Linked DNA regions of Homo sapiens. The protein of the gene in region 1 purifies or fractionates together with the protein of each later gene. This does not show direct contact. Each region holds a gene or a part of one and is shown on either strand. Other genes may lie near its edges.

What was found. The genes of interacting proteins can lie anywhere in the genome.
Region 2: the proteins of NSMAF (region 1) and XIRP2 purify together in Homo sapiens (affinity purification with mass spectrometry; one large-scale study listed by BioGRID and IntAct). This does not show direct contact.

Annotation. Positions count from the first base shown.
Region 1 is NC_000008.11:58,597,214-58,600,870, forward strand, and holds part of NSMAF (protein FAN), read right to left. Parts: intron 2,809-3,657; coding exon 2,757-2,808; intron 2,658-2,756; coding exon 2,537-2,657; coding exon of another isoform or gene 2,519-2,536; intron 2,284-2,518; exon of another isoform or gene 2,151-2,283; coding exon 2,019-2,150; intron 711-2,018; coding exon of another isoform or gene 690-710; coding exon 647-689; intron 338-646; coding exon 174-337; intron 1-173. UniProt on the Homo sapiens protein: Couples the p55 TNF-receptor (TNF-R55 / TNFR1) to neutral sphingomyelinase (N-SMASE). Specifically binds to the N-smase activation domain of TNF-R55. May regulate ceramide production by N-SMASE.
Region 2 is NC_000002.12:167,241,444-167,245,100, reverse strand, and holds part of XIRP2 (xin actin-binding repeat-containing protein 2), read right to left. Parts: intron 3,325-3,657; coding exon 3,191-3,324; intron 2,533-3,190; coding exon 1-2,532.

The DNA.
Region 1 (3,657 bases):
CAAACAACATCAGCAAAAACAGGTATCTGTTTTCAGGAGAACTGCAATAAGGCAGGAGAACACAATCATCTCTAAGTAGCACAACAGTATACGTCTTATCTCCTCTTCAGAAACATTTTCATCACAGAAGAGAAACAAAAGGTGCTCACGTTTATTCTCTTTACAAAATTTACCTGGGGAATCTGCCATAGAAGCATTATAACTGGAGGTCTGGGACAAACTTTTAAACTTTGGGGTGATCCTTCGAGGATGTGGTGTCACAAATAGTTGTTTTGGTGTCTGCCCAAATTCCAAGATTTGCGTAAGCATGGCTACCTTCTCATCAGGATCCTGGATGCTTTGGGACAGAACACAAATAATGCAGTGAACCACTAGGTTCGAGTTCCTTGAAAGCACGCATTTCAAATAGTACTGATCAATAGGAGGGACTAACCCTCAAATAATGACAGCAACTATGTACCAGGATTGTCTAAACCTCATTATAGACCTTCAGAATATTTTCTGATGCTCAGTAACACAACAGTGAAAGCAAGATAGAATTCATTTTAAAATTTCCATACCTCAACCTTCAAATAAATACATTAATAATTTAGATAAAGACATATCTTATAACTCAAGTAGAAACTCCTTATTGACATATAAGTACCTGTTCAAGTCTACACCTCCTTCATAGGTCAGGGGATGAAATACTGAAAAAGACATACAAAACACTATTGAAAGATGTGCTATTTCAATGTAATATACACTGTTTAGAACCTAAACAATGCAACAACTTAAAACTCATGTTCAAAGAAATTGCTATTCACTTTGCAAAACAGACTAATATCCAACTGCAGTAAATACCAACTTGAATATTATCTTCAGATGAACAAAAATCTACTTGTCAGGTAGAGGACCTGTCATCTCAGTCAGCATTGTTTTCTCCTGAGAGGAAGCATGACTTATAGAATTAATAAGACGGAATTTCCATGTAAAAAATTAGGTCTGAATTTCCAGCTACAGCTCCTTGTTATGAACATGGGCGATATGGATTATATGTGAGTTCATTTATTAAAAAAAGAAAACACACATGAGAAACGTGGAAGAAGATAAGCATTGAAACTGAAGAGAAGGTATATTGCTGCTATTTTCTGTTAAATTAAAAAAAAAAACTCTGGCAGCTACTTGGGAGGCTGAGGCAGGAGGATTGCTTGAACCCAGGAGCCAGAGGTTGCAGTGAGCCAAGACTGCACCACTGCACTCCAGCCTGGGTGACAGAGCAAGACTCTGTCTCAAACAAAAAAAAAAAAAAAAAAAAAGAAAAAAAAAAGAAAAGAAAAGGAAAAGAAACTCTGGGTCTTCCATAGGAATTGAGGCCACTGTTCTATCACACTGTAATAGAGTTTTAATTGAAATTATTCAGTGGGATGTAGAGTATATGCTAAAATTAGAAGACTTTATAAAAAGACCTCTTGGGGCCAGGATGAATTTGGTATTATTTGGGCAAAAGTCCTCCCTCCTTGTCAGTTACTCAATATCTAATCCAGGGGCTGGGCGCAGTGGCTCACACCTGTAATCCCAGCACTTTGGGAGGCCGAGGTGGGCAGATCACCTGAGGTCAGGAGTTTGAGACCAACCTGGCCAACATGGTGAAACCGTCACGACCAAAAAAAATACAAAAAAATTAGCTGGGCATGATGGCAGGTGCCTGTAATCCCAGCTACTCGGGAGGCTGAGGCAGTAGAATCACTCGAACCAGGGAGTCGGAGGTTGCAGTAAGCCAAGATTGTGTCACTGCACTCCAGCCTGGTGACAGAGCAAGACTCCATCTCAAAAAGAAAACCAAAAAAATATCTGATCCAGGGTCATGCAGCCAGTGGACGCTGGAGTCTGACAGAACATGCTTCCACTGAAGAAATAAGACTAATTGCTTTGGCCTCATTTTTTTGTTGGTATTGTTTGCTTTCATTTTCCAATGAAAATGAATAATGCTAAATATTCACCCAATGCTAAATAAAATTTCAATGAATATTACATACCATTATGGGCCCCAACTGCATCACTCCCTTTTTGTTTGTAGCCAAATATTAGATCAATCCACTCGTGAAGGTGTTCAGACACATAATTGCTTTCCAATGCATCTTTGCTCTTCTGGAGAAAGTCCTCGGGACCTATTAGATTAGACTCAATCGAAAAATCATGGAGTCTTCATTTTTTTCCTCCCATTTCTCTTGTCTATCTATATGTATATAAAGCTTCTAGGACAGGCAAGAGGTCCATATTTCTTAATGCAGTTTTCTTTTTCTATCATATGAAATGTAAGTTTTTTGGGGAAAAAAGTGGCAAGAATCATTTTCACATTAAGGTCTCTCAAATATATATTAATGTTTTTACATCACAGACTCATAGAATACTTCTGATATGGAATAGGGCTCATATATCCTTATTTAGAGAATTATATTGTGATTTTTAAAAATCTAAGCAATAAAATAATTACTGAAATTGCACTACTTGGTAAAGCATGTCTATAATACAACACCTCCAAGGGGGGACTCACTGGAAGCCCAAGGGGGAAGCTCCACGTCGTCAACCATCTGTCCTCCTTGTCTCTTTCCCAAATCCAACTTCAGGCTATTGACTAGAAAGCTCACATCATCACCATAGAATTCTGGAATTAACTGAAAGTTTCGGGGAAAAATAAAAAAGAACAACAAACATGTTTTAAAGCAGTTAGAAACCCCAAGTCCAGTTACTCATCAGCTTTATTAACTGCTTACCTCTTTAAAATCCGTTGCACCATCCAGACAGTTTTTCCAAGTTTCTGCAATACTACATATGAAAAAAAAATTCACCTATTTTCAGCTAAGGAAATAGCAATAGCAGCATTTCCTATGCACTTGGGGGCTGTTCTACACTTTACCTGTATTAACTTCTGTTTGTCATTTCCACATAGTTCTAACCATCTCTCTGAGTGTCCCACTTTAACAAAAGGGAACACTGGGGCCCAGAGAGTTTATGTAACTTCTCCAGGGTCACATGGCGGGAGTGGGCATAGAGTCCGAGTCCACACCATTAGCTACCATATACACATTGCCTCATCCAAGGGCCAAATGGAGCAGGGTGCCTCCACACTGAAAGATTAGCACCACTGGTAGGGCGCGGTGGCTCACACCTGTAATCTCAGTACTTTGGGAGGCCAAGGCGGGTGGATCACGAAGTCAGGAGATCAAGACCATCCTGGCCAACATGGTGAAACCTCATCTCTACTAAAAATACAAAAATTAGCTGGGCGTGGTGGCATGCGCCTGTAGTCCCAGCTACTCAGGAGACTGAAGCAGGAGAATCGCTTGAACCCGAGGCGGAGGTTGCAGTGAGCTGAGATTCTGCTCACTGTACTCCAGCCTGGGCGACAGAGCAAGACTCTGTCTCAAAAAAAAAAAAAAAAAAAAAAAAAGATTAGCACCACTATCTGAATGGCTCATTGCAAAAGGAATTATTATTAGATATGTGTAGAGTTCAAAAAAAATGAAAAGGACATACCAAAAAATTTACAACAATTATTATCTCAGTGTGGTGGGATACCAAGTAAACTTATTTCCTTTTTTATAGTTGCTGATTTTTTTGGCAAGAAAATATTACTTTTATAATTTAAAAAGTAAAGCCATCTAAATACACACA
Region 2 (3,657 bases), on another chromosome or scaffold:
AACATTGCCTTTCTGAATATCTTCAGTTTTTAAGGTTTTGATCTTTTTCAAAACTTCCTCTGAACTAGAACTTATAGAATCTAAGGACTGATTTTCAAATTTATACCTCATGCTGGAAACATCTCCAGCTTGTATATCCATTTCAACAGGCTTGATTTCCTTCACTTCTTCTCCTTGTATGCTGTCCAAATTTTCTGTCTCAAAAAGAAAACATGCTGTACGAACATCCCCACCTTGGATCTCCTCCTGTTTTACAGTTTGCAATTTGACTGCTGTTTCAGAGTCATCTTTTATGGTATCAAGTGGCTGAGTTTCAAAGAGCCAAGTACAAGTTTTGACATCTCCCTTATGAATTTCTTCACTGCTGGTCATTAACGAAACTTTTTCATAAAGAGACTCCATTGGCTGGGTCTCAAAAAGCCATTTACAGGTTTTGACATCCCCTTTAACAATATCTCTAGTTTGTTCAGTTTTACTTTCTGTTTCTTCCACATCACTAAAATATTTAATTGAATCAAGAGGTTGGGTTTCAAACAACCATTTGGCAGATTTCACATTTCCAGTCTGTATTTCTTGAGCAGATATTCCTCTAATTATTTGAAATTTATGAATGCTTTCATCAAACTGGTCAATGGGCCTTGTTTCAAAAAGCCACCTACAGCTTCTTACATCACCTCTTACGATTTCTTCTTGCTGGACTGTCTTTACTTGATGATATTTTCCAAGGGGATCTTGAATGGCATACAGTGGTGTTGTCTCGAAGAGAGATTTATTTAACTCTACAGCACCTCTTGTAACTCCTTCCACCTCTATTTTATGTGATGCATCAAATTTAATTAAATTGTTTGATTCAAAGATATGTGTGTAATTCTTCACATCTCCTCTGTCAACTTCTTCAAGTTTCACTGTTCGTGTGTACTCCTTTTTATCTTTTCTAATGTCTTCCAGAGGTTGGGTTTCAAAAATCCATTTTTGATGCCTAACATCCCCTTTTTCTTCTTCAGAGGCAGTGATTTTTTGAAGCTTTCCTATATCAGGACTGTCTTTTAATGCTTCAATTGGAAGTGTTTCAAATAGATGCTTAGTAGTTTGTACATCACCACCTATTATCTCCTCACGTTGTAGAGAATCTGCATCAGGAACTTCTTTTAGAATGTCTAATGGCTGGGTTTCAAACATCCAACACTTTCTGGAGACATCTGTACCTATTATTTTTTCCTTTTCAATGATGACCTCTTCTGACTCTTTGATTTTCTCCAAAGGTTGGGTTTCAAATAACCACTTTGCCTTACTCACCCCACCTTTGACATTTTCTTCCATGGATATTCCTCGGACAACTTTAATTTCTGTGATATCTTTGTTAATTGTGTCCAACGGCTGTGTTTCAAACATCCACCGTGCTGTTCTTACATCTCCCTTTTCAACGTCTTCTCTGTGAACAGTTTTAATTTCCAGCATTTGGCCCGAACCATCTCTAATAACATATAATGGTTGAGTTTCGAAACATTTTATACTTCTTTTAACATTTCCCTTAATTTCTTTGAGCTCAGACCTAAGCTGCAGTAAATGAACCTCATCCACTGAATGAAGCTGTCCAAGTTGATCTAGATGTTGAGTTTCAAACATGTATCTCACAGTCTTGACATCCCCCCCAGTTATGTCCTTACTGATAGTTACCGCTGATTCTTCTTGACTTTGATGCATTTTATTCATTGAGTCCAATGGCCTTGTTTCAAACATCCACCGAGCTGTGCAGACATCTCCTCTGGCTAGCTCAGGAATTTTCTCTGCATTTTCTACAGTGTCAGAAGAATAAGCCCCAAGTGTGTCGATGGGTTGGGTTTCAAACATCCATGTGGTATATTTCACATCACCACCAGCAATGATTTCTTGATCAGCAATGCCCCTGGAAATATCACCTTCATCAGGAGAGCCATTGTTGATGGAATCCAATGGTTGATTCTCAAAGATCCATCTAATGGACTGCACCTCTCCCTTCAGAATTTCATCCCATTCCAAGTATTCTCTTTCTGAGTTCAGATCTTTTTGAGAACTGTCATTTGTGTTTTCAAAAACATACCGGGCTTGTTGCACATCTGCTGAGACTGAACTCCCTGAGTTCATTTGACTAGAAACAATCTCAGAAACTTCACTGATATAATCTTTTTCTAAGTTTTTTCTTAACTCAGGATGGATGTGTTTATATAAACGGTTTAATTCATACAAATTTCTTTGCTTGGAATATACATCTTTGGGGACTGGTAGTCTTCTAGGAGGACTGGGCAGTTCAGGGGACTGGGAAAATGCTGTCACATCTACTGAAGTTTGAAGTACGTCAGGTGGGGGAGGAGGAAATTCTTCTGTCATTCCTGAAGAAGTAGCATTAATTTGTGCCAGAGTTGAGGAAGTGACACTGTGATCACTATATCTTGTAGTTGATGTTTCCTTCCTCTGGCTGGTTGAAACGCAAGAAGTGGAAGAGGTACTCACAACTGATGATGGCTTGAAAGTCTCTTCATATTCACTTTCAGTCTTTAGGGGAGAGAAAATCAAATCTTATAAAGGTGAGTGTAGTGGCAGAGGCTTCCTAGGCACTGCCCTTCATTGGTCTGTAACCTGGACCCTCCTATGATATCTCCATTGGGAACAATATGTGATATACTCATTTAAAGACCAACTTAGGAATAATAGTCAATATTTGTCACTATCTCTCCTATAATCCATTTTTACTTGTAAAGTTATATTTGCTATTCAATGCAACAAGGACTCAATATTTTAAAATTTACACATAATCGTGATTCTTTTTCCCTTAATGTGGTATGCAGAGTAATCTAGAGGGAAACAGTAAAAGTCTTAAAGTACTTTTGAGGGTTGTTTCATTTTCCTTGGAATTTAAAACAGAACAGAGTAAGCATCTGGCATTTAAAATTGATTTAATTACTTTAATGTTAATTATTAGACTTTAGAACATATATAATTTTTTCATCCCTTATTTTCTGCTAGTGAGAAAAGTTTTTACTCTACCTCCTTTTGCATGCAGGTCAATATTCTCCTTACAGAACTGAATAAATGCCAGTTCAGAATTTTTTTTTGTTGAAAAGCCACCTCAAGTATTCAATAATTTGAAAATGTTACACATTTAAGCTTGGTCTTACACTTAGTATGTTTCTGTGTAAAGAAATGACTTTACCTTAATCTGCTTGGCTGGGGTTGTCATCTCTTTGTCAGAATAAAGGATCTTTTCCTGGGCAGACTTTTCAAACTGCTCTTTTAACAACTTAGTCGAAACCTTTGGAATCTCTTCATCCTCAGGTGTATCAATGACTACAAACAGAAAAACACACCAGGGTTACTATGTAATTACTAAAAATTATGTTTAAGAAGAAATTATGGCTGGGCATGGTGGCTCATTCCTGTAATCCCAATACTTTGGGAGACTGAGGTGCGAAGATTACTTGAGCCCAAGGGTGTGAGACCAGCCTGGGCAACATAGCCAGACCCTGTCTCTACAGAAATTATTAAAAAAGATAAAATTATAATGCTATGGGAAACTTCTCACAGTGTACATTAAGTAAAAAGATTCAAGGTACAAGCATGCATATGGCATTATTTCATTATGTAATTTAGGAATATAGGAAGAACTATAGTAAGACAATA